Regions from separate parts of the Homo sapiens genome. Here regions 2 and 3 are each linked to region 1. Evidence: fine-mapped expression QTL. A gene starts in region 1. Each other region holds a variant in brackets. All regions are shown on one strand. Distances are from middle to middle. Region 1 holds the start of RBM38 (RNA binding motif protein 38). Region 2 has its middle 32 kb from the start of RBM38-AS1. Region 3 has its middle 22 kb from the start of RBM38-AS1.

Region 1 (8,173 bases):
ACCTGGGGCTCCCATGGATTCAAAGGAGCTGGGCTGCAGGCTGGGGGTGTACAGGCCACCTGCACCAAGCTCAGCCCAAAGCTGAGTCCCCGAAGAGCCTTGATATAAACACCAACACGACAAACAAAAAGAGGAGGCCCAAGAGCGCGGGGCCTGAAGACTCAAACCAGAGCCCTGCCTGGATGGGGCTGTGCTGTTTCAGATCGCAGTGGCCGGCCTCACCTGCTCCTCTCTGCACATCCTCATCAGGGTAAACTCACTCTCCCTCCTCTGCAGGGCAGCTGGAGCCACAGCTGGGAGCAGAGAGCAGGCCTAGGCCAGGCAGTTCTGCATTTGTGCCCTGCACACATCACACATTTGCGAGGGAGGCAGGAGAGGACCTCTCTGAGCATCAGTTTCCTCAGCTATATAATGGGCATCATCGTAGTCATCTCTTCCTAGGGCTTTTGTGAGATGAACTAAGATAACACACAGAAAGTGCTGGGCTCATCCTCACACTGAGCAGGAATTCTGCGTTCCAAGCTCCTGCAATTTCCATTTTCTCACCCAGCACACACAGTTGCCAGTCCTCCCTCCCGCTCCCCAGTGAGGCCTGAGGGACCCAAGTCACCTCTGCCCAGCCTGGCTCCCAGCCTAGTCTCACAAAACTGTGTTCCCTTTCCAGGGGCCCTTTGTGGGCCATGGAACCCTTGGCAGTCAGCTGATACCTAAGGTAATAGTATTAAACACTTAAAATGCTTACCAGCCAGGCACGGTGGCTCACACTTGTAATCCCGGTGCTTTGGGAGGCGGAGGTGGGAGGGTTGCTTGAGGCTAGGAGTTTGAGACCAGCCTAGACAATAAAGGGAGACCTTGACTCTACAAAAAAAAATTTAAAAAATCAGCTGGGCGCATGCCTGTGGTTCCAGCTACTCGGGAGGCTGAGACTGCAGGGAGCTATGATCACACCACTGCACTCCAGCCCGGACAACACAGCAAGACCCTGTCTTTATAAAAAATAATAATAACAAATAAAATGCTTAGATTAGCAAAGGAAAACAATCACATTAAAATATAGGCTGGGTGTGTTGGCATGCACCTGAAGTCCCAGCTACTCAGGAGGCTGAGGCAAGAGGATCAACTGAGCCCAGGAGTTCTGTATCAGCCTGGGCGACATAGAGAGACCCCATCTCTAATTAAAACAAATAAAAACGGCTATGAAAATATTTAAAAAACAAATATGTGATGTAGCAATGTAGACAAGCAATGTCTTCTTCATCAATGCGTTCAACAACAAGGTCAAGTAGTGGCGCTGATGAGACTGTAGTTTTTTTTTTTTTTTGAGACGGAGTCTTGCTCTGTCGCCCAGGCTGGAGTGCAGTGGTGCACATAAATGTGTGTTTGAGGCTGGGTGCAGTGGCTCAGCCTGTAATCCCAGCAATTTGGGAGGCCAAGTCAGGAAGATTGCCTAATCCCAAGAGTTCGAGACCAGCCTCTACACAAAATATAAAATTATCCCGGCATCGTAGTACGCACCGGTAATCCCAGTTACTTGGGAGGCTGAGGTAGGAGGATGGCTTGGAGCCCGAGAGGTCGAGGCTGCAATGAGCTATGATCGCTACACTCCAGCGACAGGGAGAGACCTTGTCTCAAAAAAAAAAAAAAAAAAAGTGTGTGTTTGGGTGAATGACTGATTGTCAGGCAGAAGCTGGTGACCCGTGGAGACATGGGGCCGCCGGAGGGGGGGAGGGATTGGTGATCCAGATACCCAAGGGGGCCCGGGGGCGGGGGGCGAAGGAGTGCGACTGGACCCGCACCTGGGCAACCGCGTCTCCAGCCTCCACGGCCCTGTCCCGCCCCCTTCCGGGCAGGCAGAGGCCCCGGGGCTGCCCTGCCGCCTGGGCCCGGCCCCCGCGGCAGCAGCCGAGCGGCCGCACCCCTTTGTGGGGCTGTCGTGCCGGGAGGGGCGCGGGCGAGGCGGGCCCGGGCGGCGCTGGGACTTGTAGGCCGGGAGCCCGGGCGCCTCCGGGCTGAAGCCCGTGGCCACGCCACCGACGCGGCTCCAGCCTGCCCAGGCAACGCGACGGCTGGGGACAGCCTTGGAAAAACTGAAGGGGAAACCGAGGCCTGGTGAAGGGATCCAGCTGGCGCAAAAGCACGCGGCCGCGCAGTGGCCGCCTCCCCCGGCCTCTAGGGGGCAAGTGAAGGTCACACTTAAATGAAAGTTTTCAAAGTCGCTTCGAAGGGCCTCCGGCTGGGCCAGAGCTTTCCCCCACCCCACCTTGTTCCATCGTGGATACACTCAACAAACATATCCCAGAGCCCTCTCCTTGCCAGGCCCTCCAGCTTGGGCAAAACATCCCAGGTCCCTGTTCTCGCAGCGCCCAAATAGCAGGGGAGGGGCTCCAGGCAGGCGAACACACAGGGCCGGGGAGGTGGGAAACTCCGCGAAGGAAGGAGAGGAAACCACGCGGGATGAAGGGCAACGGGGGCCGCAAGCGGGGGCAGGAGCGCCAGGAACGAGGAACGAAGGGGGAAGGGAGGAAAGGACGCCCAGGCTTCCGGAAGACTCGGGGGTCCCATCCCCACTGTGCAGAGGGCTAGAGCGGGAGCTGGGGGAGGGAGAGGTCAGAGGTCAAGGCTGCCGCGTGGAGCGTGGGCCGTGGAGTGGGGGAGGGGGCGGGCAGACTCCTCCCCGCCGGCAGCCAGGGCAGAGGGCTGGAGGAAACGCGGAGAACTCCTCGGTGCTGGAGGAAACGAGGGGAACTCCTCGCCGGCCTTGCGGTCCCCCACAGCCCACGGAGTGCCACTCCCAGTCCCCACAGACCCCACCTGCGTCGCCCTGTGCTGAGAGGAGGCCGCAGGGCTGGGGCCGGGAGTGACCCCAATTAGAGCTGCTGTTTCCCAGCTGCATAGGTCCCAACCGCGGGGGCTGGAGATGAGGCGGGCTTGAGGCCCCTAGTCCCGGCTTCAGAGGTGGAGGGTGTGACCCGCAGGTCCGGGATCCCGGGGTCTGTGCAGTCACACGGCCCTTCCCTTCGCTCAGGAAAGCCCGGGGCTGAGTTTCATGCTCAACCGCTGCCAACTTGAAATTCCTAGCTTTTGAATAAGGGGCCCCGCGTTTGCATTTTGCACTGGGCCCCGAAAATTCTGTGGCTGGCCCTGCCTGGTGTGAAGCTCACAGAGCCCCACTATGCGCCGCCTTTCTATGGCTGGGGGCCGGATGAGGGACCCGGGTCTGCTCTTACTCGCCCCAAGGGTCCCTGACACCAGCCCAGAACGGGGTGGAGCTGGAAAGAGCCCACACCTGCTTCCTCTGCCCACCTCATCTCCCGCGGGGCCTCTGAGACCGCCCGGGACCCGCTTCTATCGCGGCACCGTGGTGTAGCTCCCTCCGGGGTCGTATGCTGTATGTTTACTAGCCGAATTCTCAGTCCTGGACGCTCCGTGGGGCCAGGGAATATGATCTGTGCTCCGCTGCAGCCTCGCGCCCAGAGTAAATATCGGTCGGATGAACTAATCTTACATATAAAACAGAAATCATTTCCCTTTTTTAATATGGCACGTGGCTCTTCCCTAAGTCGCCCTGGGTTAAATACCGACTCAATTAACAAGATGCTAAAAACCGTTTACGTTTTTTTACGTTTTTTACGTTTAATTCACCAGACGGTGCGCTCCACGAGGGAAGGGGCCTGGCCTCCCTAGTTCAGGGTTGTGCTTAGTGCCTGCAACCGGCCGGGCCCGCGGGGGCAGCCAGGAGAGAAAGGCGCGCCCAGCGCCCCCAGGCCCGGATCCGCCCTCAGCCCGCGTGCGCTCCCCTCCCCCCTCCCCCCAATCGCCGCGCGCCCGGGTGCGGCTGGGCGGGGTTAGAACTACGCTTCCCGGCGGTCCCCGCGCGCCCGGGGCGGGGCGGGGCCGGCTGGGGGCGGGGCTGAGCTGGCGGGGGCGGCAGGCTACAAAGCCCGGGGGCGGTGCCGGGGCGCAGAGTCCCCGCAGCGCCGGTCGGGAGCGCAGCGCGGCGCACGTCGGCGCGCACGGCGGGACGGGCGCCGGAGTGGTCGGGCCTGGCGGCTGGACGGGCGCCCCTCGCTGCCCCGCGCGCTCCCCGCCGCCCCCCATGAGCGCAGCCCCGCGCGGCCCGGGTCCGTAGGCGGCGGGGCGCCCCCCATGCTGCTGCAGCCCGCGCCGTGCGCCCCGAGCGCGGGCTTCCCGCGGCCCCTGGCCGCCCCCGGCGCCATGCACGGCTCGCAGAAGGACACCACGTTCACCAAGATCTTCGTGGGCGGCCTGCCGTACCACACTACCGACGCCTCGCTCAGGAAGTACTTCGAGGGCTTCGGCGACATCGAGGAGGCCGTGGTCATCACCGACCGCCAGACGGGCAAGTCCCGCGGCTACGGCTTCGTAAGTGGCCCCCGCGCCCGGGCCCGCACCCCGCCGCACACCTTATCGCGGCCCGGGCGCCGAGTCCACTCCGGGGCACACGCCCAGACGGCCCGCTGCCGCCCCCGCCCCAGGCGCCTCCAGCCGGCGCCCGCACCTGCCGCCTCTCCCGGGCGCGCTCCTGCCGGTCCCGCCCCCACCACCCCAGGCCCCGGCCCCCACCCCCACCCCCACCCCCACCCCCACCCCCGGTTTAAAAGGAAGAGCCGCTGTGTTCAATTAGGACTCCTAAGTTGGTGGGGAGGTTTTGGAGCCAGAGGGCACTCGGGATTTCCTGGAGCAGCGGGGGGTGAGGAGCAATGGCTCCACCCCGGGGTGTTAGGAGCTCTTCGGCCTCCCCCATATTTTTAACAGCCCTCTCAGCCGCCCCAAATAAACATCAGCTTAAGTAAAAACGTCTTGAAGACACTTTCCTGCTTACCTTCCAAGCATAGCGTCGCAAACTCCTTCTCAGAGGAAAGTCTCGGCCCTCACTGGTGGGCAAGTCCAGGCGGCCCCCCAAGCTCCCTTCGGGGTTCATTTTTGCCCTATCCCCGCAGGGGATTATTTTTGTCCTTGAAGGCCACATTTCCCAGGCCTTGAACTTTGACGGGAGGAGCTGGAATCCAGGAGGCATCTTTGTGGGAGAGCCCCAGGTAGGGTTCAGAGGAGCTTTGGCTCAAGGACCCTGGGTCACAGGCACCCTCAGAGGAAGGGAAGAGAGGGGTGGCAGCATCCGGTGCCAGGGCGGAGCCGTCTGCCCCTTTCGCCCCTGGTTCCCCCCACGGCAGCCCCTGATGTGTCTCTGCTCCACCAGGTGACCATGGCCGACCGGGCGGCAGCTGAGAGGGCTTGCAAAGACCCGAACCCCATCATCGACGGCCGCAAGGCCAACGTGAACCTGGCATATCTGGGCGCCAAGCCGCGGAGCCTCCAGACGGGTGAGAGCTTGTGTTTTCCTGCCTGGCTCTTCTCGGTTTCTATATTGGGTGTCGGTATCTGTCGGGTGGAAAGAGGCCCCCCCTCCTCGCCCCAGCAGTGGCAGTCGGCTATCATGTGCCTGCAGAGCCGGCACAGGGCAGCCATCCCCCCCTCGAGGATCTAGACCCCTTCTCACAGCGTGTGGCCCAAAGAAGGGGGCGGGGGGCAGGGAGGGTACTGCACCCCAGTTGCCAGCTGTCCTCGCAGGAGGGAGGAAGTGGCCATGGGGCCTGGAGGTTGGGAGTGCCGACACCAGTGGCTGCTGACACCTGCGTCACTCACTGCCACACTTCAGCGGTGTGCCTTGGGGTTCACAAGGGGGAGGCCTGGGAGGGGAGAGGAAGCGGATGATCCCTTTTGACTAGAGGTGTGTGGCTTGTGGGATTCTGCCACCCTGTGTGCAGCCCTTGAGACGTGGCTCGTGCAGCAAGGCCAAGTCCCTGATTGTTCTCTCGTTTTAGGCTTTGCCATTGGGGTGCAGCAGCTGCACCCCACCTTGATCCAGCGGACTTACGGGTGAGTGGACATGGCTGGCTTGGGGTGGGTAGTCCGTGGAGATGAAGTGGAGAGGGCCTTGGGCTTCCTGGGTCTGGAAGGCTGGGGAAATGACAGTTTTCAGACATTTGATTGCGTTTAAGCCAAGGGAGTGAAGAGAAGGCAGATTGCACTTCTCCATCCCTGGCAGAGGCCATACCACCTAGGGGATGGTGAGCCTTGGAGCCTGCCTGCCTTGGTACACACCCCAGCTCCCTTCGCTAGGTGTGTGGCCTCAGTTTCCTCACCCGTAAAATGGGAGTGGTCACAGCACATCTGAGTTCTCTGAATGGAGGGCCTAGGGTGGGCCTGGTGCAGGTAACGCCCTCTTGAAGTGTTTGCTGATGACTCTTAGGGACTGGCAGGCTGAGTTCTTCCCCAGGCACTCCTCTCACCTGTTCTAGTGCTGGGGCAGGTGGTGGCAGTAGGTCATTGCTACCAAGGTCTGATGTTTGTGAACGTTGCTGTAGATACGATGTGTTTGGGGTGGAGGCCACCTGCCTGAGTGGCCTGGCCTATGGGCTTCTAGTCTGACTCATTTACAAGCAGCGCAGCCCACTCTTCTCCATCCTAAAACGCCTCCCACCTCCCTGCCCTTTTTTAAAACATCTAGTAAGTCCTGGCAGCTGCTTGGGGAGGGACACACACACTTAAGGGATACAAAGAGTCCTGCCTTGCGGCCTGCCTCCCCACCCCCATGATGGATGGAAGCTGTCTGCCCTAGCGCCGTGGCATATTGATGGGGTTGGAGTTGGAGGGGAAGGCAGCTCAGAGACCACCACCCCTTTCAGGGCATTGGCACTTCATGAACTTTCTGAATCCAAATCCCTAATGCCAGTTGATCACGTGTGTGTGCTCACGCATGTGCGCACCACGTAGATTCCATTGAGAGAGACACAGCTTGAGGAGTAACCTGCCTGACTGGGGCAGTGTGGACAAGGATCCTGTGGAACCCGGCTGAGCCTGGCTCCCAGGTGAATGGGTCCCCTGGGGCCTGGCTCCCAGGTGAATGGGTCAGAGGCCCCAGCAGAAGTTGCTGTGCCCACTTTTTGGGAACGCTTGGGGTGACTCGGGGGCTCCCTGCCGGCTTCCGTGTGTATTGGTGGATGTGTGCAAGTGTAGCAGTGGGAGGAGCCGCTGGCTGAGGGGTGCTGGAGGGTGGCCGGGGCCCTTCTAGCCTGTGCGAGTGGCCGGGCAGCTCAGGTTCCTGCCGGGGTGCCTCTGTCCTCCTGGGAAGGGAGCGTGTAGGGTGGTGGGAGCAGGCGGCCCTGTCCGTCTCGTCCTGGAATCTGTTTTGTAGATGTCTAGAGTCGTCTTAGAGGGTGTTTGGGGACACTGTAGCCTTCATGCCTTCACCGAGATTCTTCCTATGGGGTTCAGGCCACATGAAGAGGGTGTTCCTTGTTTTCCAGAACCTTGGCTCCATTCCCCAGGCCCACAGCAGGCGCCTGGGGGCATGGACTGGGCGGGAGCAGCTGCCCAGAGGTGAGGGTGTGTGCCTCCAGTGCCTGCAGCTCTTTTCTGCTTACAGTGGGATAAGGCCTTCCCACGTGCGTCTGGGCTCGCTCTGATCCACACAGCTACCTCTGGGACTCCATACCCATCAGTGCTTGGCCTCTGGGGCCTGCAGAGGTGGGTTCGAATCCTGACTTTGCCCCTTACCAGCTGGGTCTGTCTTGGCAGTGGCATCCTCATCCGGAAAACAGGAACATTAACTGCTTAAAACAGTGCACAGGCATGTGGGCTGGGTGCTCTGGCCTCCTCAGAAGTCCTCTCCTGTCCTCATAGCAGGCCTCTGAGGATGGGACTGAAACCATTCTTACTTTATAGATGGGGAAACTGAGGCAGAGAAAGGCTAACCACCTGTCTGGGCCTGGGGGCGGGTGGCAGGGCCAGGGTGGGGAGGCGTGAGGTAATAGACGTCCGGGAGGAGATTGGAACACAGGTGGTGGGTGCCTGAACGCATGCTTTCTTGGTGGGGGACGGTGGGAAGGGCCCTGGCCCGACCTTTCCCTTGCTGTCCTGGAGTCCTGTGAACACCACCCATCCAGAAGCAGTTGGGATCGGTCACAGAGTTTGCCACTGTGTGCCCCCGACTTCAGGCGACGGTGTTTTGTAACTAAATCTGCTGGCTGGCCATTTAATACTTGTGACGATGAAGAGGCCGCAGACTCTATTTGTTGGTTGCCAAAGGGTGGAGACCCAAACAGGGACGGTGTCAGAGGGGCCATCCGCTCTTGGCTTCCTGGGAGATCTG
Region 2 (8,173 bases), 34 kb after region 1:
AACAGAGGTTGTCACCACCCTCAGCCGGCAGAGACTGCCTGTGGAATGAGTGCAGGTGGAGGAGAGGGGAAGATGATCCCTAGCTGGGACCCACCCTGTGTGGGGCTCTGGAGGGAAGGAAACAGCCCTGGTCCCAGCTCCTTCCAGAGCCGCTGACCCAGCCAGGTTGCACTCTGCGGGAGGTGGCCCGGGAGCCGTGCTGCCCCTAACCTCACCCTGAAGCTGGTCCTTCCAGGAGGGGCCGCCTCCTCGGAGAGAGGAGATGCCATGGAGAGGCCAGGGAAACCGCCACGGGGCCGTGTCCAGCGCTTCTCCAGCCAATACTCACCAGAAACGAAAGAGGTTCCAGGGTGATGTGATTGGGGTCTGTCTGCCCTGCTAGACTGTGAGCTCCAGGGGCTCAGGGCCAGGCCAGGCTCTGCTCACCACCATTGTCACTCCAGTGCCCGGCACCCTGCCTGGCATGCACTTGGCACTCAATAAATGTCTGCGGAAGGAATGATGCATGAGGAGTCCTGAGTGCACAGGTGGCCCTGCTGAAACTCCTTCCCACCGCGGGGCCTTCGCACATACCGTGTCCACTGCCTGGAGCACCTCCCTGCAGGTGTTGATGTAGTGCCCTCCTCCACCCACCCTCTGACACTGCCTGCCTCCTCCAAGCGCTTCTCAGGGTTTGTGCCACTCAGTGCATTTATTCATTTGCTCATTTTAACATCTGCCTCCTTCCTGAACGTGAACTCAGGAGGCAAGGGTGTTTCCGACCCATCCATGACAGTGCCCAGCCGCCCGTCCAGTGTCTGGCACAAAGTAGGGAACTTACAATAGTTGCTGCTCATGTGAATTCTAGAGAATTTAAATTAAACGACCTTCCAAGCTTCAAAGTCAGCCGAAGCAGCATCTGCCACCCACAGTCACCTGCGTCGGGTGAGTCCTCATGAGACAGTGCACTGGGGGATAGGAATGCTGCAGACACAGACTTGGGCCCTGCCTGGAGCTGCCCTGGGAAAGGCCTGTGGGGGTGCAGCCAGGCCCCCTCCCCTGTTCCCTGCTCCTGGGGAGTCTTCCAGTAGAGTTCAGAGATGCCCGTGCGAGGGTAGGATGTGGAGGCCTCCCTCTGAGATCCTCTTGGGACAGCCTTGCTCTCCTTCAAGGGCCACAAGGTTCAATTTTGACCATATTTGCCTCAGAGAAAAACAGCCACCCCGTGGGGTCGTGGTATAAATACCAGTTTATTTACTCTGATTCTCAGCAAAGCATGCTTCCAAGGAGCAAAGGTTTCCTGCTTGCTAGTGTACAATTTTGGAAATGTGGCCCTGGGACAGGAGACTGTGGCAGGCTCGGCTAAAGGCACAGTGGGGGATGGGGTGCAGTGTCCGATTATGGGGGTGCTGCTCCACCCAGGTCACCTCACAGAGTGCCTTCCCTCCGGAAAGTAAGACAAGGAAAATTCGAGAATAGACTCCCTGGCCCTCTGCACTGGGGCTTCCGAGGCCAATTACCAGACAGCCTGGAACTGTGCCCAGGTTTTCCTTGGGGGAACTCTCCCTTCTCTACTCCAGGTCCCTGGGTCTCAGGTGAGTCCAGTTCTACCCCTGGCCCTATGGGGGTGGGCGTGAGGCCCAGGCCTGGCCAATAAGAACATTGGATGCCACTGGCCTCAGTAATGAACTCAGGAATGGGCACATCATCCAGTTAGAGCCAATGAGATACCATAAAGTTTATGCTGGGGTGGCTGGGAGAGAGGCAGGACCCCTTTTCCATGGACATTAACCTGGGGGGTTAGAGTCTGAAGCTGCCAGGATGACCCTATGGACCCTGAGCATGAGGCTAGTTTGGGGGATAGCAGGTGTGGGAAACAGAGAAACCAAGTCCCGGTGACAGTGTTTAAGCTGCTGGATCCAGCCATTCCTGAAGCCAGACCAGTGAGAGAGCAAGTCAGTTCTCTTTTTTCATTAAACTAGTGTCTTGATTTTCTATTATCAACTTATCACCAACTTAGTGGCTTAAAAAAACACTTATCTGGCCAGGCATGGTGGCTCACGCCTGTAATCCCAGCACTTTGGGAGGCCAAGGCAGGCAGATCACCTGAGGTCGGGAGTTTGAGACCAGCCTGACCAACATGGAGAAACCCCATCACTACTAGAAATACAAAATTAGCAGGGTGTGATGGTGCATGCCTGTAGTCCCAGCTACTCAGGAGGCTGAGGCAGGAGAATTGCTTGAACCTGGGAGGCGGAGGTTGCGGTGAACCAAGATCGTGCCATTGTACTCCAGCCTGGGCAACAAGAGCAAAACTCTGTCTCAAAAACACAAAAACAAAAACAAAAACAAAACAAAAAAAAACCCCACTTATCCATTATGTCACAATTTTGTAGGTCATGCCCCAAAAGGGACCTTGGCTTGAGGTCTCTTGAGGCTGAAATCAAGGTGTTGGTGGTGCTGGATTACTTACTGGTGGCTCTGGGGAAGAATCTACTTCCAGCCTCATTCAGTTGCTGGCTGAATTCAGTTCCTTGCATTTGTAGGACTCAGGTCTCCCTTCCTTGCTGGCTGGGAGCTGGGGCAGGTCTTTGCCCTGGGGGACTGCCAGGTTCCTTCCTGCACTTTCGTTTTCCTTTTTCTTTTTCTTTTCTTTTTTTTTTTTTTTTGTTAAGATGGAGTCTCACTCTGTCACTCAAGCTGGAGGGCAGTGGTGGCATTGCAGCTCACTGCCTCCACCTCCTGGGTTCAAACAATTCTCCTGCCTCAACCTCCTAAGTAACTGGGACTACAGGTGTGCGCCACCATGCCTGGTTAATTTTTGTATTTTTAGTAGAGACAGGAGTTCGCCATGTTGGCCAGGCTGGTCTTGAACTCCTGACCTCAGGAGATCCACCCACCTCGGCCTCCCAAAGTGCTGGGATTACAGGCGTGAGCCACCGCGCCTGGACCGTTCCTGCACTTTCCACGTGGCCCCACCAGCAACAGCAGGTGAGCGCCTCTCACACTCAATCTCTGCAGCTTCCCTTTTGCTACCCACCGGTCTCTGCCTCCAGCTGGAGAAAGTTCGCTGCCTTCACGGGTTTATGGGATTAGATTGGTCCCACCTGTATAATCCAGACATCATCTCCCTATCTGGAGGTTTATAACCTTAATCACATCTGCAAAGTTCTTTTGCCATATGACTTATTTACGAGTTCCAGAGATTAGGACATGGATGTCTTGGGGTCATTATTCTGTCCACCCCAGCAGTTTGACTTGGGGTTTCTGTCATTTGGTAGGGAACCCGGGAACAGCTCCACCTGGACTGGCTGACCCTTCCTGGAGAATGGTTGGACTGGATTGGCTCATGCGGCTATAAAGTTCTGGCAGGAATGACTGAATCCAGCAGCTTAGACACTGTTATAAGGACTTATATTCTCACCATTCTCAGCCAGTGTTGGTTCTGTGCCAAGGCTCTACAGGTGCCCCTGGCTTTCCCACTCTGGGTTAGTCCACAGGAAAGAAAATATAACTTGCTTCCATTGGCCCCTAAAACAAATTTAACCCTTTTTATCATGCAGGGCAGTCTTTTTGTTTTTTTGTTTTGTTTTGTTTTGTTTTGTTTTGTTTTTTTGAGACGGAGTCTTGCTGTGTCGCGCAGGCTGGAGTGCAGTGGCGCCATCTCAGCTCACTGCAGGCTCTGCCACCCAGGTTCACATCATTCTCCTGCCTCAGCCTCCCGAGTAGCTGGGACTACAGGCGCCGCCACCACGCCCGGCTAATTTTTTGTATTTTTAGTAGAGACAGGGTTTCACCGTGTTAGCCAGGCTGGTCTACAATCTCCTGACCTCGTGATCCACCCATCTCAGCCTCCCAAAGTGCTGAGATTACAGGCGTGAGCCACCGCGCCTGGCCTATTTTTTTTGTTCTAAAACTCTCCATCCTGGGTTGGACTCTGGCTCTCCCTTTGATAAGCCTCATAACCACTCAATATTTCCCCCCTAAATGACAGTGCATTAAGCCCCAAAGAGTCTCCTTTTGTTCTTTCCACAAATGACACCTGAGCTGCTCCTCTGGGGGTGGGGGGAAGCAGCAGGGAAGCAGTGAGAAGCTGGGCGTGGCTACTGTCCTCTGGGAACTCACTGCTCAGCACTGAGTTACAGAGTGTGAGGAGGGCTGTGAAGGAAACGGGCAGGTAGGATACTGGAGGGTCAGGAGGGGCCAGGTGGGAGGCAGGGCCAGCAGAGCCTGGGGAGAGGTCCCACAGTAAGGCACAGGGGAAGAGCATTGCGGAGGAGGTGGTGGCCTGTGCAAATGCCTGGAGGTTGGACATGCTCGGCTACGCTGAGGAACTGCAGGGAGGCCGGGAGGGCAGGAGCGTGGTCAGGGAGTGGAGGCTGAGGCTGCCAGCTGGGGAGGGGCCCAGATGGGGCCGCATGACTTCATATCCTCCCACCCTCTTACAACACAGACACTGCTGGCGGCTTTGGAGTGGCAACTCTCTGGGGGTTGGAAA[CAG/C]GGGTCCTGACTCCTGGCAACTTCCTCCCCTCCCCCAGCACAGCTGCACTTGACACGGAGACCATCCTAGCGTGACTTCCAGTCTCACTTGCACCCAGTCTTCCACAGAGTACTTGAGACCTCCCCGGATCTCCCCCCTAGCACCCGGGCGCTGCAGACTGCCTCCACCACACCCTGCGCCCTTCCGCTCCCAGAGGAGGGGGAGCACCATTGTTCTTGGTGGAGAAGTGGGTGCTGGGATGGTTGGCTTCGTGAGAAGGGGGAGGACAGATAGGTCCCACTGAGATGGACTCCATATCCCCTGCTTTGCACCCTAGCCTCTGAGCTATCCAGCCTTCAGACATCAGCTTCCTGCTGCTAATGGTGGTGGCATTTCAATTTTTATTTTTTAGAACGGGGTCTCGCTATATTGCCCAGGCAGGTTTTGAACTCCTGGGCCCAAGCTGTTTTCCCGCCTCTGCCTCCCTAAGAGCTGGGATTACAGGCATGAGCCCCCTTGCCTGGCCCGGTGGTGGCATTTCAACACAGAGAATGAGCCCAGCTTCAATTCCCTAGGTATTGATAGGATCCAGGAGACTGTCGTGGAAAGTCTCCCTCCCATCCTGTCCCTTCCAATTCTCTTCTCCCGAGGCGTGCAGCACCTCCAGCTGGGGACACTGAGGTCTGCACAGATGGATGTTTACTCTTCCCCGCTTCGAGCACAGGCCATTTGCTCTGCACGGCACCTGTCTCTTTCCCACTAAATGCATCTTGACCAGGCCCCTTAGCACACACGGGGCTTGCTCTTTCTTTGCCGTCAGCTGCGTGCTATCTGTGGCGTGCATGGGGCAGGTGGGGTGGGCGTTCCCATCCCCAGCGATGGAGGCAGGAGCTCTTTCAGGCTCACCTGGAACACAGTCACATGTGCTGGTCTGTCGGCATCACCTCAGCAGTGAGCCCATCTGTGGGCCGTCATTTCATCTGCACCTTCCTCCTTAGTCCTCCCACAGCACCCCCAGGAGGGCATGGTGGGATGCAGAGACACTGGATCTCAGGCCACACTTTCCTGAATTTTTCCCCAAATTCAGTGACCCAGCAGGACCTGTGCCTCCTGACGTGGTTTCACTGTTATTTCTAGAGTCTCCCAAGGGGGATCCCCTAGGCCTCCAAACCAGCCTCAGAAGCCACTGTGGGTCCTCGGAAGTCACCGTGGGTCCTTGGAAGCCACTGTGTGTCTTCCCTGCCCTCTTCCCACTATGCTCTCACTCGCCTGTGCCTGCTACCCCAAGGCTCTGGAGAAGGCTGCCTGGGGCCCCCATCCCAGGACACCAGTGTCCACACCAAGGTCTCTACCTGCAGGCAGCTGCAGAGCTCTGGCCCCTGGGAAGGTCGGGGAAGGGAGCCTCCTTCCAGTGTGCAGTCCTGAGCCACCTCCCCGGGTCCCTACTGACCATCACAGCACCCACCTCACTGCTACCCACCCCACAGCAAGGCCTCCACGGCATGAATGGAGACAGTGGGCCTGTGGGGGAGGGGGTTAGAAACAGCGTCATCTGTTCCAGCAGGAGCTGGTCATGCTGCAGGGTGGGCGCCTCTGACAACTTCACCAGCCCCAACCTCTCCCTCTAAACACATTCATTCAACCAATCTTTCCCCATTTACTTATTGAACACCAACCAAATACAAGGTCCTGGTGAGAAGACAAAGATATAAGTCATTTAGCTGGGCATCATGGTGCATGCCTGCAGTCCTAGCTACTCGGGAGGCCGAGGCAGGAGGATCACTTGAGCCCAGGAGTTCCAGGCTGCAGTGAGCTATGATTGCACCACCGCACTCTAACCTGGGTGACAGAGCGAGACCTTGTCTCTTAAAAATAAAAAAGCCATGTAAGTAATCTCTGGAATAATGTTTAACTTCAGTCTGATAAATGCCACAGTGAAGTGCTGAGCCTGCCCAGGCAGCGTCCCTGCCTCAGGCCCTTTGCACGTGCAGTTCCCTCAGCCTGAATGTTCTTCCCTTAGGTGTCCACACGGCTCACCTCTTACCTCCTGCAGGTCTCTTCATCTCACTGGCTGCTTGGTTCAAGTTGCAGCCCCTCTCCCCGGCCTGCTTGACTTTTCACCATAGCCCTTGTCACTCCTCCTGGCCTTTGCTTGCTCTAGGTGCTGCTCACTTGTTGCTTGTGTGTCATTTATGTGTGTGTGGATTGCCGGTCCCCCCAAGGAATGTGAATCCAGGTGGCAGGCATTCTGTCTGTCTTATTTGCAGCTCTTTCCCCAGTACCTAGGCAAGTCCCCAATACATAATAGCTGCTCAGTAAATAGCTGCTGAATGAATGAACCGCCTTAAGGCATGTGACCTGTTCAGTGATTCAGCAGCTCAGGAGGAAGATGTCAGGGGACATTTTCCCACCACTGGGGACAGACTCAGGTTTTTGTTTTTTTAGTTTAGTTTGTTTTTTTTTGTTTTGTTTTTTTTTTTTTTTTTTGAGACGGAGTCTTGCTCTGTTACCCAGGCTGGAGTGCAGTGGCACAATCTCAGCTCACTGCAACCTCCACCTCCCGGGTTCAAGTGATTCTTGTGCCTCAGTCTCCCAAGTAGCTGGGATTACAGGCACCCACCAGCACAGCAGCTAATTTCTTTTTTTTTCTTTTTTTTTTTTTTGTATTTTTAGTAGAGGCAAGATTTCTCCATGTTGGCGAGGCTAGTCTCAAACTCCTGACCTCAAGTGATCCACCCGCCTCGGCCTCCCCAAAGTGCTGGGATTATAGGCGTGAGCCACTGCGCCTGGCCCAGGCTCAGGTTTTTCAAAGCCTGAAATTATGTCAATTTTGGACACAATCTTTAAGAAAAAGAGATACAGTTACATGTACAGAATTAGGGCCAGGGCCTTTCCCCTAAGCTAAAACTTGGACAGCCTCAGGGTGAACCCCATGTGAGCTAACACTGAAAGAAAGACTGGCGCTGATGACAGGAACCTTCTTCCAGGCAGGGGGAACAGCCGCGGAAAAGCTTCGAGGTGGCAAAGAGCCGGGAGAGTTCTGTGTGACTGCAGCTTGGCAGGGGATCCAGGAGAGGCTGGAGGCCCAACAGGCCGGACCAGGAAGTGCCAGGTATGACATAATGTGGCCTTGGTCTCTCAGGAGTCCAGAGGGCAAGCCTGGCGAGATGACCCTTGGGTTCCAGCAGGACTGAGCCCTCTGCCAGCCAACGTTTTCCTATTCATTCCAGTGGCCCCAGCCCTCCCTGTCGGCTGCCAGGAATGTGTCACTCCTGCTTCGGGGTCCCTGCTGCCCCCTGCCCCACTCAGAAAGATCCCTTGGGGCTGGTTGGGGAGGCAGCCTCCCCCTCCTCCTCTCCCTGAGCTCTGCTCAGAATAAAAGCTCCCGGGGTCCTGGCTGAGGATGCTGTGCCCTCGCCCATCCGTGGCCACTGCCAGCCATTTGCATCACAAATGAGGCACAGTCGTGCCGTTGGGCACCAGCCTGGTGCTACCCTCGGTGACTCAAGGACACAGGCCAGGATCCAGCTGCTGAACGTGCTGCCTTGCCCCACCCCCAGCCGCCTAAACTGTGTCGCTGGGGAAGGATGCCCCGGTCCCCAGCCTGCCTGGGATCCTCCTGGCCTGGGCAGCTCTCCCCACCAGCCAGGAGAGCAACCATCGTCGGGGTGATAAACCCAACGCTGGGCAAGGAGCGCTCTGCATGTCAGGTGG
Region 3 (8,173 bases), 23 kb after region 1:
TCCCAAGGCAGGGACTTTCTGTCCTACCCACTGTGTTCCTAGCAGCCGGCACAGGCCTGTGCCCAGAGGGCCAGATGTCATACACACATGCATGCAGATGTATGTTTGTGTATGTATACACGTTAACACACATTATCCCAGACCCCCATATGCACAGACACATAGACACACACACACACACTGATACAGGCATACCTGTGCATAGATACACATATCCACATGGACATGCATCCACAGACACATTAGCACAAACATGTATGTGCTACACACACACTCCCACTCGATATTCAGAGATACATGCACACAGAGAAACAGACACACACTCAGACACACCATCACACATACACACGTACACACCCTGGCTCCCACACAGTACATGCACATGCACACGGAGATACGCTTGCACACAAAATTACCTTCAAGGCACACACAGATGTGCACACACATATATACATGTGGAGATAGACGTGCACACACCCCATGTACCTACACAAAGATACACACATATGTGCACCCAGACACACATGTGCACACACGTGTTGAGTGACAGTACAAGACCCACCCCCATCGTTTGGCTCCACAACAAGTGAGGGTGTTGCGGGGGGCAGCAGCCATGGTTTTGAGGGTTCATTGGCTTGGGAGAGAGGGAAGTGGAGCAGGTCCAGGCCGGAGGACTCGGGGGGAGAAGAGACGGGCACAGTGAGGGAGTTGCCGTACCTGGCCGCTCACTTGGCTGGGCGGCAGATGTTGGCTGCCAGTGTCCTTTGGCGCGGGGGAAGACCGCTCATTGCCAGCCCCCTAGTCCTCGAAAAGGTTTCTGTCTGGACATTGGCCCAGGCTCGGCCAGTGCACAGGCAGGCAGGAAGGGCCGGGGAGCTAACACCCCAGGGCAGCCCTCAGCAGGCCAGAGGGCAGTTAGGGGATAGACGCCCCTCCCTTGCCACCCTCGGCAGTCACTCTGGGGTGTGTGCCCTGCGCTGGTGCCCTGAGTCCATGACTCCCCCTTCTCTTCACTGCCTCACGTCCTCGATCCCCTGCTGTGCTTCCAGGGATCCCCTCCTGAAGCAGCTGCCTGTGGGGTTTGCACACCCAGCTGAGACGGCCGTGAGAGACCTCAACGACGGCAGCGTGGGCCAGGCACTCAACGTCCCCGGGAGTGGGGTGCCCAAGTCCTGTGGGGCCTGGAGAAGCGCCTGCTTCCCCTTCTTCAAGGAGCTGACAAAGCCCAGAGAGCCTCAGCAGTGCAGCCAGGGCCATCCCACTAGGCGGGCTTTGCCCACAGGTTGATCCACCTCTGAGCTGTCACCCTCCAAGCAGGCAAGAGGACCAGGCCTGGGAGCAGAGGCTGAGCGCAACTTCCGGGGCACGTGGCTGCTGTGTGAGCCAGCTGGGGGCTGGGAGAGGCACGCAGGATCCAGAGGGGCCTGAGACCCCACCCCGCCCCATGGCATTGATTTGGAGACTTCTTGCTGGGGAGGGGCAGTGGTGAGTGAGAGGTGCTTCCCTTAGAGCCCCATTTTCATGCCACTTTCCAGTTGAGCAAACTGAGGCCCAGAGAGGAAAAAGGGGCTCTCCAAGGCCATTGGGCTGTCACTCCCCTTCTGGGGGTGTAATCACAGAGGGACTGGGCTGGGACAAGGTGTGGGAACCACAGCCACCGCAGCCCACGAGAAGAAGCCACACAATGGTGAGGTCACCTCCGTGTCACAGCCCTGGCTTGCTCTGCTCTGCCCTGGTGGGGAGCTTGCCTGGTTGCCATCCTCCTTGAACCTCACCTTCTTCCCTGCATGCATTGAGCTGACCCCTGGGTAGCCCCGCAGGTCCTGCCGGCCCAGCATCCACTCCCTTCCTGGTGACAGCACCTGCTTTTCCTTAGGGAGCTGCCCCCGCACCACCCTCAGGCCAGGTGGTTCAATGGAGCCACCTCTACCCCTGGCTCTGCAGCTCAAATAGTCAGCATATTCTACTCCCCTGGACCCTCAGAATGGTTCAGGGATAGACGTGTGACCCAGTGTGGGTCCATGCGAGTCAGTCCTCCTGGGGGAGGAAAGCTGTCCCTCTGCTGAGGAAGCCAAGCTGGGAGCAGATAAGCCTGAAGCAGCTGGGGGCAGAGAGGAGTTTGTGCTTATGGAGAGGCTGCCTGAGAAGGAAGCCAGCCCAGGAGAAAGGAGAGCTGAGGAGGAGAGAGGAGCAGAGATAGGGTCTTGGGGACATCTCTGGGGGCTTTTGATCCAGCTATGCCTGAAGTTAGATCCTGGACCTTTTTAATTTGAGAGCTAATACTTTCCCCCTTTTACTTAAGCCTATTTGATTTGATTTTTTTGTCCCTGGCAACCAAGACTCTGGACATATACAACCTCAAAGGGCTGGCATTACTTAGAATTAGGTTCAGCAACTGCAATAGAAAGTCCAAAATTAGGGTGGTTCTTAGCTACCTGTAATGCATTTATTTTTCTCATGTAAAATAAGTCTGAAGCAGGCAGTCCAGGACTTGGATGACAGCTCCACAGTCATCAGGAGCTTAGGCCCCTTCCATCATCCCAGTGAACCATTTCAATGCATGGCTTCCTTCCTTAAGACCATCTTGGGGACCAAGATGGCTGCTGGAGCTCCAGCCATCATGTTCAAGTGCCAGGCAGCAGAAGAAAGAAAGGGGAAGGCTAGAGTATCTCAAGCCGAGACTTCTCGAGGAGACTTCCCAGAAGTTGCACACAACATTCCTCTTCCATTTCGTTGGCCAGAACTTAGTCACATGGCCATACTTAACTGCAAGGGATGGTGGGGAATGTCGGTGTTTAGCTGGGGATATAGCTACCTGGAACACAGAAAGCCTTCTGCTACCAAGGAAGACACGGGAATGTCCTTATGCAGACAACTTGCAGTTTCTGCCTCAGGTCCTTCCAGCAGTAAGCTTTGAGTCCATGAGAGTCATGTCCCATTCATACGTGCTTTATGGAGACTGTTACTGACCAAGCCTGTTACCTCTTTACCTTCACACCAGTGGGGTGCGCTGGGTCTATCCTTATGCCCATTTCACCCAGGGGGAGATCGCGGCTCAGAGCGCTCACTGCACATGGCCTGAGGTCACCTGGTTCCTTAGGGGCAGTTCCAGGAGGACAGCTCGAGCTTCTGCCTCAGTGAGGTGTTGGAAGTTTGGCAAACAGTTCTCATCGGACATGGCTGCCCACGTTCCTACAGGACCGGCGGCCCAAGGTGCCTTCGCATTCATGGTCCTTGAGTGGGAGCTGGGCCTGGGGCCACCAGGAGGTGCCCTCTGATGTGCTCCAGTGTGCTGGCTTGGTTCCTTCTCCTTAGCATCCTCCCACGAGGAGTGGAGTCATGGTCCCATTTTACAGAGGGGAAGACAGGCTCAGAGCGGGGAGGTGGCCTGGTGAGGAATAGCTGACCCATCCAGGCTTCGGGCCCGGGTCGGTCTGCCTCCAAAGCCTGTGTTGTTGGTCTTTGGCTATGTGGCCTCTGGGGAGCTTGCGTGGAACACCTTGACCAGGGCTCAGTCCTGTCTCCTAAGCCCCACCCATGCCTCCTTCAGGGGTGCAGACCCCCAGCCTGGGCCAGCTGCAGGCAGGGCCAACAAGGGGCAGCAGGAGGGGCTGGATGCTTGGGCCACCTCAGGCGATTGACTGAGCCCGGATGTTCCGGCCACCTCAGGTGACTGACTGAGCCACGGTTACATCACCTAGAAATGGGTTAATAACCAAGGTCCTGCCTCCCAGGGCTGTGGCCGGGATTACAGGGGATGAGTTAGGTAAGGTGCCCCGTGCAGCCCTGGTGTGGAGTAGGCGCCCCTCAGGGAGCCCTCAGCCCCCACTGCTAGCAGGGTAAGCGAAGCGATGGAGGGTGGGTTTGAGAAGACCCCTGATTCCTGGAAGGCCACCCGCTGTTTTTCAGGGTGCTGCCTGAGGATGACGGACCCATGCTGCCAATCCAACAAGACAAACCCTCCTGCTTCAGTCTCCCCACCTCTGGAACCGAGGTTGTCCTCAAAGCCCCAGAATGCATGAAAACTGGCATTTATTGGAGACCTGCCATGGCTTTACACCTGTCATTTCCCTAAACTCTCCCAGCAGCCTGTGAGAAGTTGACTGTGCCCATTTCACAGATGGGAAAACCAAAGCTGAGCAGATTTGGCCGCCTGCTCCAGGCCAGAGAGCTGGACAGTGGCAGGGCCAGGGCAGAGCTGGGGGTTGGACCCATGCATCCTGAACCTGGAGCCACACGCCGCTGCACCCTGAGGACTGGGTTCTGGCCACCGCACCCATCCTCCACCTTCCTCAGCCAAAGTCAGCCGGGCGTCCTCCCCACCCCTGCCCTGGCTGCTGAGTCACACTTGTGTTTGTTCCCCAGAGACGTAAACATCCAACCAGGAGCCCCCTGGGCAGGAGGTTGGGAGCCCTCCAGATGCTGAGCGAATAACAGGGGCAGCTCTCCAGCGTGCCCCGAGGCTGGGTGTTGCATAGGGCACAGCCTGGGGTGGGCACCTGGGCTTCCAGATACCTCCTGGGCCTCCCGCAGGGGCCGATAAGTG[T/C]CTGGCTCTGCTTATCAGCCCCGTTGCCCTGCCTGCTCCCGCCTCAAGTCCTGGTGTACACATTGGGGTGCACGGTGGCCTGGAGATCATGATGGGGTGAACCACCCTCCGCCCACAGCCCGGCCCACCAGACAGCTGAGCCTGGTGCAGCAGAAACAACTCAGAGGGTTCCCGGGTGCCTCCTGCTGGCTCCCTGCTCCAGTGATGGGGGCGTTTTTAGAGAAATTAAAATAAAGATCTTTTTTTCTAAATTATAAAATTAAGACTGTTGGGGGGAAAATGTGACTATTTCCTTTAATTTATTAAAATAATCTGCATATGTGTATAAAAAGGAGTGGAAGGAAAGAGACCAGGTGTTAATGGTCGTAGGAGGACAGGAGGCTTTTATTTTTTCTTAACACGGCTCTCTATTTTTCACAGCTGAGAAATGAAAGCCAGCGAATGAGGCTTGGCGTTTGGTCATTTGCTCTTGCATCTGTGTGTGCGCACTCCAGACGCTCCAGAGGTTCCAGTGGGTGGTGTCTGTGCCCCTCTCTTCTGCTGACTTTCTGGGTTTCTCTGATAGGCCTGAGCCTGCAGCGGGGTGGGGTTGGGGTCCAGGCGCTTGTCTATGGGAACCCGCTCTGTCTTCAACCGTGTGACTCAGAACCCAGTTTCCCGGCACACACACAATCACACAATACAAGCCCTCTGTGACTCTCCACTAAATCCCACTTCCTTGCACAGCCTCCACGGCCAGGGCGAACTGGCCCTGCCACCTGTCTGATCCTGAGAGAGAGAGAGAGAGATGGAGGGAGTCACTCTCTCCTTGTTGTCCCTGAACCCTAACTCAAATGTCAGCCTTGGAGATGCCTTCTGGGACCTCCCTATCTAAGCTATCACCTCCAACCCCATCCTTGTTCTCTCATTTGTTTTTCTTTCCAAGCAGCTGTCTCTGGGATAAGGGCCTGGCCTCAGAGCGTCCTAGGCATGAGTCTGGGCTGCCTCTTCTTCCTCCTCCCTGGGCCTGACAACCTCGCTCCTGGGAAATGGGCTGAGCCTGGGGTTCCTACCCTCCCACGCAGTGGCAGGACCGTGCTCCCCAGCAGCCAGCGTGCCCTGGGATGGCTCGCCCTGCGCAGGTGTGGACAGCCTCTGCCCAGCTTGCAAGCACAAGCCCTCCTGAACCACGGGAGAGCGGAACGTCACCAAAGGCTGCTTGGCTCCCACAGGCCTAGGTGGAGGTGTGGCCCATGAAGGCCACAGTCCTGAATCTCAAGCTGAGGTTTAGCAAAAGCCTGCAAGGTAACCGGGGGCGTGGGGAGCTGTAGTCCTCATCCTCAGGGTGGGCAGGGCAGAGAAGCCTGAACTTATCCAGCACTGGGCTTGTGCCAGGCCCTGTGCCCACCACTCAGCAGCATGGGCTCATCAAATCCACACAACAACCCACTTTATAGATGCAGACACTGAGGCTCAGGCTAGTCAGGGAGTTTTCCCAGGGTCACACAGTGAGTAGCTGGCAGAGCTGGGCTCCAAACCCCGGGGGATCTGATGCCAAAGCTGCCCTCCTAACCTGCAGCTGGGGTCTCCATGGGAGGAGACAATGACCTGTATTCTGGTGTGGCCACAGGGAGAAAGGCCACAGAGCCACTAAGAATGATACTGTGGAAGTCTATTTCCCGACACGGAGAGATGGCCACAGAGTACGGTGGAAGGAAAAAAGCCACCATGAACAGAAGCTTCTCACAATGCTGGGCCCAGAGTTCCTCACAGCAGCAGTGACACCCGTGCTCTCCAGTTTGCTCCAGTCCCCACCAATCTTTACTGTGCCTCTCATTGAACCCTGGCAGGCATTTTAACTTGTCGGTTAGGAGTCACAGGAGAGCCAAGTAGAGGAGGAAGCAGGAACCGTGTACACACGTGCTTTATCCCCCTTGACGTCTTTCTAGAGGACAGTTATGCAATTATGTGACAGATGGAGGGAGGGAGGGACTGAAGAAAGGGAAAAAGAATGGGTGGAGGAATGGATAGAGATGTATGGATGGAGGGTGAATGGGAGGATAGATGGATATATGCATGGAGAAATGGTTGGGGAATGGATGGAGGGAGGGAGGGTGAATGGGAGGATTGATGGACAGATGAATGGAGAAACGGATAGAGGGAAGGAGTGTGAATGGGAGGATTGATGGATACATGAATGGAGAAATGGATGGGGAATGGATGGAGGGAGGGAGGGTGATTGGGAGGATTGATGGAAGATGAAATGGAGGGAGGGAGGGAGTGATGGATAAAGGAAGGGATGGATGGGGGGATGAATGGAAAGATAGAGATATCTTCAACCTTGGTCCCTACTCCAGCAGAGTTAGCTTTGCCTCAGGGGATGGTCTGGTACAAGGGTTAATCATTCAAGTGTTTGGAATCAGACCTGAATGTGAATCTGAGTTTCTTTCCTGACAAGCTGTGTGACCTTAGGTAAGTCACTCACCTTCTCTGATCTTCAGTTTCCTCATTATTAGAAAGGAAATAATAATACTAGATAATAATAATAATAGAATAATAATCCACATTCTATGGATTTGCCTATTCTGGACATTTCTTAAGAATGTCCATGCAATATGTGATCTTGGGGGTTTGGCTTCTTTTATTTTGCATCAGGTTTTCAAAGTTCATCCATGTTGTGGCATGTGCCAGCCCTTCTACTCCAGCAGAGTTAGCTTTGCCTCAGGGGATGATCTAGCACAAGGGTTAATAATTCAAGTGTTTGGAATCAGACCTGAATGTGAATCTGAGTTTCTTTCCTGACAAGCTGTGTGACCTTAGGTAAGTCACTCACCTTCTCTGATCCTCAGTTTCCTCATTAATAGAAAGGAAATAATAATACTTTGTAGTGCCTCCTAGAACACGAAGTAGAACAAGCACTTAGGGCCAGGTTTGAGGGAGAAGTTGAAGGTGGGCCCACCTTTATTAGGATCCGTGCTGCTGCTACGGTCCTATCAACCCTGCCCTGAGAAAGTGCCCTCTCTGCTTCCGGGCCCTTTGTGTTGAGCTGGTTAATCGCTCGGGAGACTCGATGGGTTCCCCACCTCCCCACCCCCAGCTCTGAGGATCTTGGGATCTCGCTGGACTGGTGTTAATACCAATAGCATCCCCTTGCTCACTGCCTCCAACCTCGACCGGACTCTCAGACCCCGCCCAAAGCCACAGCCGCATCTTCGTGACCATGACCTGAGAAGGCTCCTTGCAGCCCTGCCGCAGAGCAATCCTGTTATCAGGGCTTCCAGCCCTGGCTGCACCTGAGAACTGAGCTGCAGGAGCTGCTAAAAGCAATGCTGCCTGTGCCCCACCCGGAACCCAGTCTTTGGGAGAAGCGCCTGGCATGAGTATTTTTTTAAGCGCTTCTGACTGATACTAAGGCAAAGCCTGGCCTGAGAATAAAAGAAGCTCTGTGTTTAGTTTCTTTTCTTTTTAAAATGTTTCTATTTTTTCTTTACTTTTCTGTTTAGTTTCTTCGGCAGTGAAAACAGACTCTGCTGTCTGTAGTTGGATGAAGAATTCACGTTTGTTTTCCTTTCAGGGTTTTGATGGGTCAGTGTAAAATATGTTTTTTGTTAATCCCCTTGGGTTACAGCTGGTTAGAGTAGGGGGTTG

The links. PIP is the estimated chance that this variant, and not a neighbour inherited with it, causes the effect.
Region 2: its variant is fine-mapped to the expression of RBM38 in monocytes (Quach 2016, PIP 0.95).
Region 3: its variant is fine-mapped to the expression of RBM38 in whole blood (TOPMed, PIP 0.97).

The regions. Positions count from the first base shown.
Region 1 is chr20:57,387,436-57,395,608 of GRCh38, forward strand. RBM38 (RNA binding motif protein 38) reads left to right here and starts at 3,961. Exons shown (of 4, transcript NM_017495.6): 1 at 3,961-4,383; 2 at 5,219-5,342; 3 at 5,844-5,898. The coding sequence starts at 4,147. RBM38-AS1 (RBM38 antisense RNA 1) reads right to left here and starts at 5,621. Exons shown (of 2, transcript NR_149006.1): 1 at 4,844-5,621. RefSeq lists silencers at 1,654-2,033, 3,644-4,043, 4,394-4,583 and enhancers at 3,678-4,179, 4,180-4,679, 5,434-5,623.
Region 2 is chr20:57,421,167-57,429,339 of GRCh38, forward strand. No RefSeq gene overlaps it. Among named protein-coding and RNA genes, the nearest start is that of RBM38-AS1, 32 kb to the left of the region's middle. The variant CAG/C (reference allele first, on the strand shown) is at 4,478.
Region 3 is chr20:57,410,803-57,418,975 of GRCh38, forward strand. No RefSeq gene overlaps it. Among named protein-coding and RNA genes, the nearest start is that of RBM38-AS1, 22 kb to the left of the region's middle. RefSeq lists enhancers at 1,317-1,446, 1,547-1,596, 3,119-3,888, 3,889-4,656, 4,251-4,545 and 2 more and cis regulatory regions at 4,539-4,558, 4,547. The variant T/C (reference allele first, on the strand shown) is at 4,547.